Regions from separate parts of the Homo sapiens genome. Here region 1 is linked to region 2. Evidence: fine-mapped expression QTL. Tissue or cell type: whole blood. Region 2 holds a variant in brackets; the other region holds the start of a gene. All regions are shown on one strand. Distances are from middle to middle.

Region 1 (8,090 bases), 700 kb after region 2:
GCCAGAATAACATGGAGCAAAGATACCAACTACTCTTCCAGAACCCCAAGAGGGTAGAACCCCTGCTTAATGGTTTGAGCAGGGACAGTGGAGAATGTTCTCATGAGAGGGGGTGGCCTGACTTTCGTTGCTAAGGTGGGCTGGTAACGCAGTAGGCAGGGCTGGCGAAGTAGGTTCCACCCAGGATGAAACCTGGGGTCATGAGGAACTCCCCGGGGGCTGGCCCTGCTTGCACCCTGGCGTATGTATGTAAGGCCCTGGATGAGGCCCAGCACTGCCTGCTCTCTCCTCACCCTCCACAGGCCGGAGAGTGGCCACCACTCTATATAGCCAGGCTGGAAGGCCAGGGTCCTGGCCATATGGCTCAAGCTTCCTTTGGAGAACCTTCTCTGGCCACTCTAATAGGGGGTGGGCCTCTTTCTTCTTAGGGCCAAATTAGGGCTTAAACTGAGAAAAGGAACTGCTCTGGGTCTTCCTGTAAGGCCTGATGTGACAGAAACCAGGTTCATCTGACCCAAAAGTCCAGGTGGGGGACAAGTGTACAAGGCCCCTCAGTGCCTGAGGTCAGGGGCTGCTGCTGCCTTTGGGGTAGGTAGGGAAGTGCAGCCTGCCACTGTTGCCTCCCAATATGGGCTTGGTGGGCATTGATGGTGGGTGCCCTGTGCAGGAGTGCTGAGTCTGCAGGAGTTCTCCAACATGGACCTTCGGGACTTCCACAAGTACATGAGGAGCCACAAGGCAGAGTCCAGTGAGCTGGTGCGGAACAGCCACCATACCTGGCTCTACCAGGGTGAGGGTGCCCACCACATCATGCGTGCCATCCGCCAGAGGTGAGCACCTGAAGCTGTTCTCACTGGAGCAGGGGGAGAAGACTGGGCAGGGCCTCCACAGAAGTCCTTGTCTGGGGCCAAGAGGACAGAATGGATTAACCCATTTGGGATTAAGTTCCATTTGTTAGACCAGGATTGGGACCCACTGAAAGACAGGCAATTAACAAAGGCAAATTAGCCCTCCTTGCAGGCACACAATGGGCAACTGGGGTTAGATAGAGATTGAGCACTTCTTTCTGATTAGATAAATGACCTCTTATCTTTGACCCCTTATCTGACCCCGTCACAGCAGGAAAAGGGTTTTTAAATAAACAACTTTCTTCCAGGGAGGAGGACCTCAGGACTCCCCGCCCCCTTTATTTAGTGGAAATGTCAACATTTCCACATAGCAGGTGTCTCTGTCTTTGGCATCTGAGGGAGAAGGATCATCATGAGTAACCCCCTCCTGCTCTTACAGGGCCAGTCTGAGATGGCTTAAGGGACTTCCAGGGGAGGTGGGTAGGGGCAAAGCTTGTGGCAGGCCTAGGGTCCACCTTGGCCAGCTCCTTCAGATCACCACCTTGCCTGGGGCTGCCCAGCCAAATGCCTGCTGCCCACCAGGGTGCTGCGCCTCACTCGCCTGTCGCCTGAGATCGTGGAGCTCAGCGAGCCGCTGCAGGTTGTTCGATATGGTGAGGGGGGCCACTACCATGCCCACGTGGACAGTGGGCCTGTGTACCCAGAGACCATCTGCTCCCATACCAAGCTGGTAGCCAACGAGTCTGTACCCTTCGAGACCTCCTGCCGGCAAGTATCTCCCAACTGGGGGCTGCCTTCAATCCTCAGACCAGGAACACCCATGACACAGGCACAGCCCTGCACTGTGGGCGTGCCCCTTGGCATGGGGCCAGGAGATCACTGGGTTATCCCGGTTAGTGATGCCCTCACCTCTCCCCACAAGTTGTTTACCCAATGGCTGGAAAGGGGTGGCTACTGGTCATCGTGACCACTGGAGTCAACACAGACTGATGTACCCACAGACACCAAAACTTGCCCCCTGAGTTCTGAAGCAAGGGGCAAGGCTGGGCCCCTAGCTTGTCCTGCCCATTCCTCCAGGTGTTGATCTTGATTCCACTTAGAGAAGCTGAAGCTGTGCCTCCCTCCCCTGTCAAGCCAGTTCTTTCCTCTTCAGGTGGCTGTTCTGGCCCAGCCCCTTCCCATCCCCAAGGAGCCCTTCAGCGCGCCCTGTTGCTTCTGCTAGCCTACCTTTCCCTGCCAGGCCCTTGCTCAGGGCCATGGCATTTAACTAAGTGCACCTGTGATCTTGGCCAAAAAACCATTGCAACTCACAGTAAGAGACTGGGTTTCGGGGAAGGAGGGGCTAGGGACATTTTGGCACTGGCCTGCCCTATTGTCTCCCATCCTAGTCTGTCCTGGTCCCTGGCAACAGGAACCTGGGCAGCTTATCCTGCCCACAGGTAAGCCCCTGGGAGCATCCACAACTGGGGACCTGCTCAGTGCCCCCCCTGCCTTACAGCTACATGACAGTGCTGTTTTATTTGAACAACGTCACTGGTGGGGGCGAGACTGTTTTCCCTGTAGCAGATAACAGAACCTACGATGAAATGGTAAGGGTCAACTGGGCTATTACTCTTGTGGGCTGGCAGGGGCTTAGACAAGTGAAGTACACACCTCTCCAGGTCTAAGGATGTGGGCCCAAATTATTCCTTGGGCATATCTGGTTGGTTTCCCTTTGGTCACCCTTGGCTGGCCTGGCCATAGAGTGGGGACAGGTTGAACACCCCACCACCCTGCTGCCCACAGAGTCTGATTCAGGATGACGTGGACCTCCGTGACACACGGAGGCACTGTGACAAGGGAAACCTGCGTGTCAAGCCCCAACAGGGCACAGCAGTCTTCTGGTACAACTACCTGCCTGATGGGCAAGGTGAGGGCCTATGGCCAGGCCTGGGGGGGGTGCCCTGAGTACAGCTTCCCTTTACCCAGCCCCCGTCTGCCACAATGGAGGGCTGTTTCTGGCTGCTTTCCAAATAGTTTTCTGCTCCTGGTGCCTCCCAAAGGCCATCCTTAGTGACTTTAGCAGACTGCCCCAGGACCTGTACTGCTTATTGGGTTATATCCATCCCTATCATTCCCTGATGCCCCAGCCTTCCTACTCCCTGGGGCTTGGGACACATGTCCCTTGCTAACCCAGGATGGGAAGGGATATGGACAGGCCCAACAGCAAGAAAGCTGGTTTCAGAGGGCCAGTAGTGTTGACTATACATTAGTGGGCTGAGATGAGGAGCCTCCAAGGAAGCTTTAGGTCTGGGTGTTTGCTACACAAGGAATGCATAGCTGGACCCACCTTGGTCATGCTCTTGGTGCCTATGAGGCCAAGCTCTGGCCAGCCCAGCCTAGGATCTCACGTCACCCTCCTCTTCTAGGTTGGGTGGGTGACGTAGACGACTACTCGCTGCACGGGGGCTGCCTGGTCACGCGCGGCACCAAGTGGATTGCCAACAACTGGATTAATGTGGACCCCAGCCGAGCGCGGCAAGCGCTGTTCCAACAGGAGATGGCCCGCCTTGCCCGAGAAGGGGGCACCGACTCACAGCCCGAGTGGGCTCTGGACCGGGCCTACCGCGATGCGCGCGTGGAACTCTGAGGGAAGAGTTAGCCCCGGTTCCCAGCCGCGGGTCGCCAGTTGCCCAAGATCAGGGGTCCGGCTGTCCTTCTGTCCTGCTGCAGACTAAAGGTCTGGCCAATGTCTTGCCCCACCCCGCCAGCCGCGATACGGCGCAGTTCCTATATTCATGTTATTTATTGTGTACTGACTCCATCTGCCCCGTCAAATAAAAAACCACAAGGTTCGAGCCGCCGGGCCCGACAAACTCCGGGTCGGCGAAACAGAGTCCGCGATAGGTGCAGCGGGCTGGCAGCTGGGAGCGCCCCGCAAGCGTCACGTGAGGGGGCGAGGGGCGGGATGCCCCTCCGCGGGCCCCGCCAATGATGAGCTGGATTGCGTGGGACGAAGGGTCGTCATTGGACAACCGCCGCGGGCGCCCTGGTCTCTGCTACCTGTAGCTGAGGGCGCTGTTGATGGGCAGCGCGGCGCGCTGGGAAGGCTCGTTCTCGCGAGAGTTCAGCTCCCTTCTTAGCCGTGGCTGCCTCAGCACCTCGAGGATCGACATGGACGCTCTCGAGGACTACGTTTGGCCGCGGGCAACCTCGGAGCTTATACTCCTCCCAGTGACGGGTCTGGAGTGCGTGGGGGACCGGCTGTTGGCGGGTGAGGCTTGGCTTGAGGCACGCCTGGTGGAAAGGGGGAAAGAAACAGCGCCTCCCAGGGGCGGTGCCACAGGGACAAAAGGGGTGCCCTGAGGAGAAGGACGGGCAGCAGGTTGAGGCCGATCGGAGGTGGGAAGGGAGCCCCGGAGATGGCGGGGACGAGGGCCAACCTGAAGAGGGCGGGGCCCGAGAGACAAAGCTGATGTGGCCGCCGCGGCGCTTCATAAACTTCAGCCCGCGTGGAAAGGGCGGGTGGAACCGCGGGAGGGTGCAGGGGAACGCGGCCGCGCGGAGGCGGAGGCGGAGGCCCGGGAGCTGAGGGTTGAGGGGGTGTGCTCCCTTCTAGGAGATGGGCGGGGGCTTGGCCTCTCCGAAGGAGACGGGGCCGAGCTGGGGGGGGCGGAGGGAGGAGGAGGAGGAGGAGGCGGAGGCGGCCCCGGCCCCTCAGGGGGTGTGGCCTCTTGGGGAAGGCGGGGCCGGGAGAGGGCAAGGGTGTGGCCTCTCGAGGGCGGGATGAGTCTCTTCCCCCTAAGGTGGGGGTGAAGATCCTCTGAGGAGGGTGGCGTCGCGGAAAACGGCGGATAAGACCTTTCCGAGTAGGGGGCGGTGCCCGGGGAAGCAGGGGCTGAGACCCCCTCCTGAGATGGTTGAGGTCCAGGAAATCAGGTGTGGAGGTCCCTCCAAGGAGAACCGGGTCGCAAAGGACAGGCGAGGCCTGGGACCTGAGGTGTCAGAGTCCAGGCTGGTCTCGAACAGTCATTACATGAAGCCACTAATGACCCATGTTGGTGCTGCTGAGTTGTATAAGGGTCCTGAGGCAGGGCCTTGGCGGTCAGGCCTTGAGTGAGTTGCCACCAGTCCTAAGAGGGTGTGTGTATGGGGTGGGGATGATCCAGTTTTGATCTGGTGTGGGGGTTCTTGGAGCGCGGAGTTCCTACCGCGAGCTAAACTCCTAAGGCTCCTTGAGGGGGAACAACGAAGCAGAAACTCAAAGAACCACAAGAGTGAACTAGGAAAAGGGGTGAGTTCCTGGCAAGAGGGTAAGCATGCCAAAGGCCTTGAGGCTGGAAGAATCTGTCATTTTGGGGGAAGGAGGGAATTCTTGTGAAGTTAGAGCAGGAATGGAGTCTGGGAGGAAAGGAAGCTGGACAAGCGAGCAGAGGCCACATTGTTTCAGGCCTTGATCTGACTTTATCCCTAAGGGCAGTGGGGAGAACCTATTGAAGGGTTTTAAGGTGGGGAATAACTTGGGAAATGCAGTTTAAGAAGCTCTGCAAGTGAATTCACCTACTTCTGTGGCTTCCAAAGTGACTTTTATATAGCTACAATTCTGTGTGTGTGTGTTTTTTGTTTGTTTGTTTGTTTGTTTTTGAGACAGTCTTCCTCTGTCACCCAGGCTGGAGTGCAGTGGCACGGTCTCGGCTCCCTGCAACCTCCGCCTCCCAGGTTCAAGTGATTCTCCTGCCTCAGCCTCCGGAGTAGCTGGGATTACAGGTGCCCACCACCATGCCCAGCTAATTGTTGTATTTTTAGTAGAGATGGGGCCTCACCATGTTGGCCAGGCTGGTCTCAAACTCCTGACCTCAAGTGATTCGCCTGCCTCAGCCCCCCAAATTGCTGGAATTATAGGCATGAGCCACCATACCCGGCCTCTCTAGCCTCTTCCTGAGCTCTTCATTTCCTGTTCCATCCACCATACTCAATGCTCTTGCCCATCTCAGGGCAATCATACATGCTGTTTTCTCCACCAAGAAAGCTGCAAACCCTCCCATTGCTCCCCACCCCCCCCCCCCCGCCCCAACATTTCCCAGTCCCCCTCTTCCGCCTCCTTTCCTCTGGCTAACTGCTGCTTATCCTTGAATCCTAACTCTAAATATTGTGTCCTCAAGTTGGCCTCCCCTTACACTCACCCAGTCTTGTTAGATTAGACCAGGGTTTTCTCAATCTTGCCTCGATTGACCTTTTAGACCAGATAATTCTTTGTTGGAATGCTGTTTGTGCATTGTAGGATGTTTAGCATCATCCCTGGCCTTACTTGCCAGTAGCACAACCCCTGGAGACAGCCGTACGTGTCTCCAGCTATTGCTAGATGTCTCCTGTGGGGAAAGTTGCCCCCTGTGGAGAACCACTGGATTAGACTTTCTCATTTTACATCTTTTATTTTCTTTTTGCATTGTCAAAATCCTTCTCATTTTATTTTACTTTTTTTTTTTTTGAGACAGAGTCTTGCTCTATTGCTCAGGGTGGAGTGCAGTGGTGCAATCTCAGGTCACTGCAACTTCCACCTCTTGGGCTCAAGAGATCCTCTCACCTCAGCCTCCCAAGTAGCTGGGACTACAGGCATGCGCCATTATGCCCAGCTCATTTGTATAATTTTTTTAGAGGTGGAGTTTTGCCCTGTTGCCCAGGCTGGTCTCAAACTCCTGGGCTTAAGCGAGCCTCCTGCCTTCCAAAGTGCTGGGATTATCGGTGTGAGCCACTGTGCCAGGCCCCATCTCTATTTTTTTTTTAATTAAAAAAAAAAAGTGAGGTGAGGAGGAGGCTCTGAGTTTGAGAAATTTGTGGTTGAAGTGAACATCAAGCGTGACTGATGAGGCTGGGCGCGGTGGCTCACGCCTGTATTCCCAGCACTTTGGGAGGCCGAGGTGGGCGGATCATGAGGTCAGGAGATCGAGACCATCCTGGCTAACACAGTGAAACCCCGTCTCTACTAAAAATACAAAAAATTAGCCGGGCATGGTGGCGGATGCCTGTAGTCCCAGCTACTTGGGAGGCTGAGGCAGGAGGATGGCGTAAACCTGGGAGGCAGAGCTTGTAGTGAGCCAAGATCGCGCCACAGCACTCCAGCTTGGGCGGCAGAGTGAGACTTTGTCTCAAAAAAAAAAAAGAGTGACTGATGAGGGGGCCGGGCACAATGGCTCACGCCTGTAATCCCGGCACTTTGGGAGGCCAAGGTGGGTGGATCACCGCAGGTCAGGAGTTCGAGACCAGCGTGGCCAACATGGTGAAACCCTGTCTCTACTAAAAATATAAAAACTGGTCGGGCTTGGTGGCTCACGCCTATAATCCCAGCACTTTGGGAGGCTGAGGCGGGCAGATCACGAGGTCAGGAGATCGAGATCATCCTGGCTAACACGGTGAAACCCTGTCTCTATTAAAAATACAAAAAATTAGCCGGGCATGGGGGCAGGCCCCTGTAGTCCCAGCTACTCGGGAGGCTGAGGCAGGAGAATGGCCTGAACCCGGGAGGTGGAACTTGCAGTGAGCTGAGATCGTGCCACTGCACTCCAGCCTGGGCTACAGAGCAAGACTCCGTCTCAAAAAAAAAAAAAAAAAACTAGCCAGGTGTGGTGGTGGGCGCCTGTAATTCCAGCTACTTGGGAGGCTGAGGCAGGAGAGTTGCTTGAACCCAGGAGATGGAGGTTGCAGTGAGCTGCACGGTGCCACTGCACTCCAGCCTCAGCGACAGAATGAGACTCTGTCTCAAAAAAAAAAAGAATGACTGATGAGGGAAGCACAAAGTCAGCACTGAAAGTCCAGCTGAAGCTGAGACCAAGGATTTTCTTTTTTCTTTTTTTTTTTTTGAGTCTTTCGCCCAGGCTGGAGTGAAGTGGTATGATCTTGGCTCACTGCAACCTCCACCCGCTGGGTTCAAGCGATTCTCCTGCCTCAGCCTCCTGAGTAGCTGGGATTACAGGCACGTGCCACCACACCTGGCTAATTTTTTAGTAGAGATGGGGTTTTCACCTTGTTGGCCAGGCTAGTCCTGAACCCCTGACCTCAGGTGATTCATCCGCCTGGGCTTCCCAAAGTGCTAGGATTACAGGCGTGAGCCACCGTGCCTGGCCGAGACCAAGGATTTTCTTTTTTTTTTTTTTCTTTTGAGACAGAGTCTGGCTTTGGCTTTCCAAAGTGCCCAGATTACAGGCGTGAGCCACCGCACCCGGCCGAGACCAAGGATTTTCTAAGATTCAAGCTGCAGGATTGTGT
Region 2 (8,104 bases):
ACTCATGGCTTCTGTCCCTGCAGCAATAAGAAGCCACTTCCCAATAGTTTCCTGATACCCAGTCACCTTTGGGAACTTACGAGGAAAGTTTTTCCAGTCTCTCCGCAGACCCTTGCATCTCTTCTCTTTTTGTTTAGACCCTTGACCACCACCCCCTATTCTAATCTTAACTCCTCTGCTACTCAGTTCCAATCCTAACCCAAGCCCTAGTCCCTAAATTTATAATCCTTTAATCCTAGACCTGGTCTCTAGATCCTGAGCCCTTGATGCTTATCTTCTAACCTCCTAATCCCAACCTCAAATCCCTAAACCTCAACCCATGAATTCTGACCTGATTCTCAAACCCCAGGCCCCCAACCCTGACTCCAAAAATGACAACCCATTACTTCTCCCTACACGGAATCACTGACGGAGTTGTAGCAACTGAATCTGCAGTAGGCCAAAGGACCCAGTGAGTTAGCCAGCAAACTACTCTAAATAAAAGATATGGTGGATAACAGCAAGCCTAAACAAATCTTCCTCAAAGATGAGCAACACAAGTCCCAGTCATTATGACAATACCTCTGTATCTCAACAAAGGGGCTTAAATCAGCAAGTCATCCCAGCCCCTGAAGGAAGAGAACAGTCCTTGTAAGTTGCAAAGCTCTCAGAGGACATGGGTGGCTCAGTAAAGCCCCTGTTCTAGGACACAGCAAAAGAAGCAACACAATAACCACCATGGCCCAGCAGATGAGGGCCACAGCCAGCATCGCCACCCCTGAGTCTGCCTTCCCAGTATGATCATCAGGACTTCAGAAGTCCCAGCAAACCAGTTAAACAGAAGACAAGAACCTTATGTGAAACCAAATTCCAGACAACTGATACAGATGGCATTCCAGAATCTGCAGCATTCCAGCATGCAACAAACTGCAATAAGTGACACAGATCTCTCCCCGACAGACACCTTATGAGAAGCAAGGGGAAAAAAATGCTCCAATAAAATGGAATCCCAGAATCTCTTCACCATCCCACCCTCAAACCCCTCCCCATTGCCAGGATGCTATGGCATAAGAGGCAAAGGACAATTCACAGTAGTAATAAAAAACATTTACTAAACACTTAGAAACAGTACTGACCAGGTGCCTCATTCAATGCTACGCTTATGTGAATTCTGTATGTATACTGTACTTAGATACAATTTTTTAAAAATTGATACTGCTAAAGCCTTGCTTAGATGGAAATTTGTAGCCTAAAATACATATATTAGAAAAGAAGAAAGACTGGAAATTCAGTAAGCCTCCATCTCAACAAGTTAGAAAAAGAGGAACAGAGCCTCAGAAACCTGTGACACATCATCAAGCGTATAATTTGTTATTATTATTTATTATTATTATTTTGAGACAGAGTCTCGCTCTGTTGCCCAGGCTGGAGTGCAATGGCGTGATCTTGGCTCACTGCAACCTCTGCCTCCCGGGTTCAAGCGATTCTCCTGCTTCAGCCTCCTAAGTAGCTGGGATTACAGGCACCTGCCACCACGCCTGGCTGATTTTTGTATTTTCAGTAGAGATGGGGTTTCACCATGCTGGCCAGGCTGGTCTTGAACTCCTGACCTCAGGCGATGGATCGCCCGCCTCGGCCTCCCAAAGTGCTGGAATTACAGGCATGAGCCACTGCGCCTGGCTGTTATTATTTATTATTAACTATTGCTTTATGCAATTGTCTTTTAAATCATATAGGAGAATAAAAGATTTACAAACAAAACCATATATTTATACTGTCTTTAACTGTGTAGTTACCTCTACCAGTTCTCTTTATTTCCCCTTGTGGATTTAAGTGTCCTTTCGCTTCAGCCTAAAGTATTCCCTTTAGTATTTCCTGCAGGGTGGATCTGCTGGAGACAAATTATTTCGGTTTTTATTAGTTTTGTTGGTCATCTTACTTTCTCCTTCATTTCTTTTTTTTTCTTTTCTTTTCTTTTTTTCTTTTTTTTTTTTTTTGAGATGGAGTTTTGCTCTTGTTGCCCACACTGGAGTGCAATGGTGCAATCTTGGCTCACTGCAACCTCTGCGTCCTAGGTTCAAGCAATTCTCCTGCCTCAGCCTCCCAAGCAGCTGGGATTACAGGCATGCAACACCACACTCAGCTAATTTTGTAATTATATTTAGTAGAGAGGGTTTCACTGTGTTGGCCAGGCTGGTCTTGAACTTCTGACCTCAGATGATCCACCCGCCTCAGCCTCCCTAAGTGCTGGGATTACAGGAGTGAGTCACCACTCTTCTTCATTTCTGAAGGATTTTCTTTATGGATATAGAATTCTTGGCTGATGTTTTTTTTCTGTTAGCACTTTGAATATGTTATCCTACTGCTTTCTGGCCTCCATGATTTCTGACGAGAAACTAGATGTTAATCTTACTGAGGGTCATCTGTACTTAATGATTTGCTTCTCTTTTGCTGCTTTCAAAATTCTCTCTTGGTCTTTGGCTTTTGACAGAGATTATGATGTGTATAGGTGTGGATTTCTTTGAGTTTGTCCTACTTGGAGTTTGCTGAGTTGCTTGGATGCATATGTTAACATTCTTTGAAAAATTTGAGATATTTTCAGTCATTATTTCTTCAAATATCTTTCTGCCCTTTTCTTTCTTCCTTCTCCTTCCTGGACTACCATTATCTTTATGTTGTTATGCTTAATTATATCCCAAAGGCTTCCAGGGCTCTGTTCCTTTTTCTTTCTGCTCCTCGCACTGGTTAATGTCAATCTTTCTTCAAGTTCACTTGTTCTTTCTTCTACCTGTTCAACTTTGCTATTGAGCCTCTCTAGTGAATTTGTCACTTTAGTTATTGTACTTATCACCTCAAGAAAGTTATATTTAAAAAAATAATTTCTTTATGATGTTCTCTACTTGTTCACACATCATTCTTATACTTTATTTCTTTAGACATAGTTTATCTCTTTGAAAAAATATGTATACATGTATGTATGTGTATTTTTTTTTAATAAGGCCTCGCTGTTACCCAGGCTAGAATGCAGTGGCACAATCATAGCTCATTGTAGCCTAAACCTCCTGGGCTCAAGCAATCAATCCTCCCACCTCAGCTTCCCAAGTAGCTAGGACTACAGGCACGTGCCAGCATGCCTGATAATTTTTAATTTTTTTGTAGAGATAGGACAACTATGTTGTCCAGGCTGGTCTTGAATTCCTGGCCTCAAGTGATCCTTTCACCTCAGGCCCCCAAAGTGTTGGGATTATAGCCATGAGTCACCTGCCTGGGCTGATTTAAAGTCTTTGTCTAGTAAGTCCAACATTGGAGCTTTCTTGGCAACAATTCCTATTGACTGATCTTTTTTTCTTGTGTATGGGCCAGACTTTCTTGTTTCTTTGTATGTGTCACAATATTTCATTGAAAATTGGATGTTTTAAACAACATAATGTGGCAACTTTGGAAATCAGATTCTCCCCTTCCCCCAGGTTTGTTGTTGCTATTCATTTGTGTAGTGATTTTTATCAATTAATTTTTTAAAGTATGTATTCTTGGTAGTGTGTAACCATTGAAGACTCTGTTCCATTAGTTTAGTGGTCATCTAATGATTGGACATAGTGTTTTTAAATACTTGGAACCAATAAGTCTTTCTGCCTTTGCCGAGGTATTCTGTATGTATTGAGCCATGCCTTCAATGGTCAGGCAGGCAGTTTACAACTCTGCTTTAGACTTCATTTCTTGCTATTTAGAGCATTAAAGTCAGCCAAGGTGAGCACATAGGGCCTTCTAAAGATTCTCCTGGACATATTACAGACCTGCTCATGCTCTTGGTCTTCTAGATTCCTAGAAATATGCCAGAGCTTTTCAAAAGCTCCATGGACATTCTATTCTCAGCTTTTTCTTTTACTTTTTTTTTGTTGTTGTTATTTGTTTGTCCCAAATGTTATCACTGCTTAAGGTTGTTGCAAATTTTAAAAATTGAGGCTGTTTGTTTTTGACAGATGCCCCAGGGAAAAAGTTCTCAGTGAGAGAACTCTCAGTCAGGTTAAAACAAAACAAAAAACAAAACAAAAAGCCAAAAAGCAACCCAGCTGGAGGAGGTCTCTAGGGAACTGCCAGGCAAATCAAATAACGATCATTTTCTGGAAATGGTGTTTTTGGGGACCTCCAAACCTGTTCTTCCCCTTTGAATGTCTTTTCGCAGGCTGGTTTCCACCATGATTTCAAGGCTGGTTTAATTTAAGCCTACAGCAGAGTTGGGGTAGGGAGAATGGGTACAGGGCAAGTTAAAAACACCAGAAAGCTTGCTTTTCTTACTAAGATTTTAGATTTTTGTGGTCATTTGCTTACAATCTGTGTAAGAACAGAG[G/A]GAACCCATGGCATGAGTCAAGTAGTTTGGGGATGAGAAAATAGAATATCTGATATTTTTTAAAGATTCTTATTAATCAAGAGAAATGTTTGCCAGCCAGGTTTTCTGCTAAGAATCATTTATTGAAGACATAAATCAACGAGTTTGATCCAACCATTAGTAATTAAAGGGGATATATTTGAAGAGGCAACCATTGTGTTTCACTTGGCAATCTGGAGATTCAGTAGGTTTTATAATTCTTTGTCGTACGTTCAAGAGTTTTCCTGCAAGAGAAGTATCTGCTTAGAGAAATCAAATTTGAGGAAGTTAAGAGAAAAGCCACCACACTGGTAAACACAACCATAGTTCAGCAGGGGAAATGCTAAACAATTATTCTCTGAATTAAGGCAGGTTAGAGACATTCTAATTTCACTGGAGAAGGAAAAAGCAGAGTGAAAGTCGGTGGAAAAGAGGCAAAGGATGGGGATGTCTGGGTGAGACTTTGGACTCCAGGAGAGCCTCTGGGAACTCCTGAGGGGATAGAGGCAGTGGAGTTGACATGAAGCAGGGTCCTGGCAGAGGCCTGTTGGAGGATATGGAGCTTTCCATCTCCCTAAGAGTGTCTCAGGTTTCCCCTTCCCCTCTTTTCCCTTTCCTTTCCCTTCTCTTTCCCCTTCCTTCCTTCCTTCTTTCCTTCCTTCCTTTCCTCCCTTCCTTCTTCCACTTCCTCTTCCTCCCTATCCCTCTTCTTTCTCCATTTTCATGTCTTCTTTTCTTCTTTCTCTTCCTACTCTCTCTCTCTCCCTCCCTATCTGCCCCCCACCCCCCCACCTCTTCTGGAATTATTAGTTTCCTCAAACTCCAATTGATTCTCTAAGGACTGATTTAGGGGAAGGTGCCAATAGCTCATTGTAGTTCATCATTATGGTTGGCTCTTAATGCAATTATATACTCATATATATGAGTACATATCTTTATTAAGCCTATATCTCATTTGAGTTCATTCAAGTGTACATCTCATTTGAGTTTCATGATAACCCAGACAGATGAGTTCTAGCTGAGTCACAGAGGTATTAACTGAAAGATTTGTGACTTTTTCTTCAACGCTCTTCCCCAGACATCACATTCTGTACTTGGGATACCTGGGCTTACTACCTATACATAAGAATAACTAAAGCTGTCAGTGGTACTAGCTCTAGATCACTGAGTTTGTGCAATGAATTCTGACTTCAGTCTGCATTCTTTTTTTTTTTTTTTTTTTTTTTTTTTTTTGAGACGGAGTCTCACTCTGGCGCCCAGGCTGGAGTGCAGTGGCGTGATCTTGGCTTACTGCAAGCTCCACCTCCCGGGTTCATGCCATTCACCTGCCTCAGCCTCCCAAGTAGCTGGGACTACAGGCGCCCGCCACCAAGACTGGCTAATTTTTTTTGTATTTTTAGTAGAGATGGGTTTCACCGTGTTAGCCAGGATGGTCTCGATCTCCTGACCTTGTGATCCGCCTGCCTTGGCCTCCCAAAGTGCTGGGATTACAGGCATGAGCCACCGTGCCTGGCCCAGTCTGCATTCTTAATCTCTGCAAATCCTTGGCATCCAAGCTTTCTGAATTACTTTATAAAAGCAATATTAATTATATCAACAATTTCATCAGAGCCTTGGTAGAGAGACAGAATTGTGCTCTGCAGTAAAATTTTCAGGTGGTCTCCTATAGTTAACTTTTCATCCATGGCACAATTAATGTTTACATTTGAAATAAATGAATAAAATGCATTTTTGTCTTAAATAGACTGTTGAGGTCCCAACATGATACAGGGATCTCCCCTAGAAGATTTGGGATTTTCTAGTCCAAATGTGATGAAAGGAAGCTCACTGTATTTGGATGCCGCACAATTCTTTTCTGGATCGCTCTGATTTAGGGAAAATTCTATCATTTTATACTGATGTGATATCTTCCTTACCAATCCCTCTTTCTGCATGTCCCTAAAACTCTTCTCCCCTGTTAAATATTAGTCTTTACTTTGGCACATAAGTGATTCTTAGAACACTTTGAACACCATTCTATAGATATCCTTAAATTTAAAACCACCCCTTTGAAGTTAAAAGTTTAAAATGGATATAAGACCAGAGATTTATTTGACAAGAGTCATAGACTGAGGTACGGTCCAGATATAAAAGGAGGGATTTAGCAGGATTTTTAATGAGTAAGCCCAGCTCAGCAAGAATCTGACAGAAGTAGAAATTATGTGAGATCTTTTCATAGTTACCCCAAATCATGAAAGTGTCTAAAAGTTCTTGTGATTTCTCTTTAGTGGAACTAGAGAACATTCAGGTAATTGACCGTCCCTAAGTGAGTAATATGTGTGCTGGTCTGTAAATCAGATGAGCCCTGTGAGTTTGTCATGGAGATGGTGTCAGAAGACATTGTCATAAAATTATTACTAAATTATACAATTGTCCTGTTTTACCTGCTTTACCTCCTACTGTCTTTATTTTCTCTTCTACATTGATTTCTCCCAGTCTTGTTGCCACGCCTCATAATGCAATAATGATCTCTATGGCTTCAGCTGAGTTCTTGCTTTGGACTATAACCTGGAAGTCAGGGACACAATCTCTAGACCTAGGGCTCCGGCAAGTCCTGGCCCATTCACTCTCAGAATAACTGTTCACATTTCAATTAGTGTCTTTCATTAATATCCTAGATATTGGAAATGACAGGGAAGAGCAAGGGTGAAATAGATGTTCTTTAAGCTGAATTATCAGGCCAAATTATGTTTCTTCCTCCAGAAGGTGTTATTTTTGGTTGGGGAGATTTGAATATGAAGTATGTATTAGAAGATGACAATGAAATAATTAGTTGTAATAAGACCTTCTGAGTATGTAAGGAAATGTCCAAACTTATTAGAGAGGAACTCTGAAGTATGTAGGAGTGAATAACATGATGTCTGAGACCTGTTTTAATATACTTCATCAAAGAAAACAGAGAAATAAAAGAATAGAGGGAGGAAATGTGGCAAAACATTACAATTTATTGAATACACATGATAGGCTTATGGGATCTATTATTGGCTCTACTTTTATGTATGTTTGAAAATGTTCATAACAAAACATTTAAAACCCTCTAAAACAGTGAGCTCTTAACTTATCTAGTTTACTTCTAAAAATAAAAAATAAAAGTGTCTTTACTTACACATTGTCCATCATACAGTTTAGTTATGTTAAGCCCTTCAAATCTGAAAGAAATTATATTTTAAAATTATTTTTGCTGTATGGTATATCATAAATTCTGACTAAATTTTACTTGATAATCTTTGGCTAAGTTTGGGAAATAAACATTCTGCTAATAATGAATTCTTGGCAAATATTTAAAAATTCTACTATATGAATTTTTATTTGTCAAAGACATTGAGTATAGAAAACATACTCAGTCTACAATAAAATACAGAAATTCAAAATAGCCTTTGAAAATTCAAGTAGAAATACAGAGGATTAGAAAAAGAATGTGTCTTAAAGTTAAAATATGCATTTAATGAAAGCTGAAACATCGCTACTGACCTTACAGAAACAAAGGATTAAAAGAGAATACTATGAACAATTGTATGTCAATAGATTAGATATTCTGGATGAAATGAACAAATTCCTAGAAACACACAAATTATCAAAACTTAATAAGAAATAAAAAGTCTCAACAGACCTATGACAAGTAAAGATACTGAATCAGTAATAAAAAATGTCCCGACAAACACCAGATGGCTTTAGTACTGAATTCTACCAAAAAAAAAATTTTTTTTTTTTTTTTTTGAG

Evidence for each region. PIP is the estimated chance that this variant, and not a neighbour inherited with it, causes the effect.
Region 1: it holds the start of WDR6, and the variant in region 2 is fine-mapped to the expression of WDR6 in whole blood (INTERVAL, PIP above 0.99).

What each region holds. Positions count from the first base shown.
Region 1 is chr3:49,003,431-49,011,520 of GRCh38, forward strand. WDR6 (WD repeat domain 6) reads left to right here and starts at 3,961. Exons shown (of 6, transcript NM_018031.6): 1 at 3,961-4,101. The coding sequence starts at 4,002. P4HTM (prolyl 4-hydroxylase, transmembrane) reads left to right here. Exons shown (of 9, transcript NM_177939.3): 5 at 668-830; 6 at 1,431-1,616; 7 at 2,347-2,437; 8 at 2,634-2,757; 9 at 3,257-3,723. The coding sequence ends at 3,477. RefSeq lists an enhancer at 2,739-3,727 and silencers at 3,866-3,915, 4,456-4,635.
Region 2 is chr3:48,302,414-48,310,517 of GRCh38, forward strand. It overlaps SPINK8 (serine peptidase inhibitor Kazal type 8 (putative)), which reads right to left. Exons shown (of 8, transcript NM_001080525.3): 7 at 7,491-7,533; 8 at 4,429-4,590. The coding sequence ends at 4,579. Among named protein-coding and RNA genes, the nearest start is that of NME6, 5.1 kb to the left of the region's middle. The variant G/A (reference allele first, on the strand shown) is at 4,328.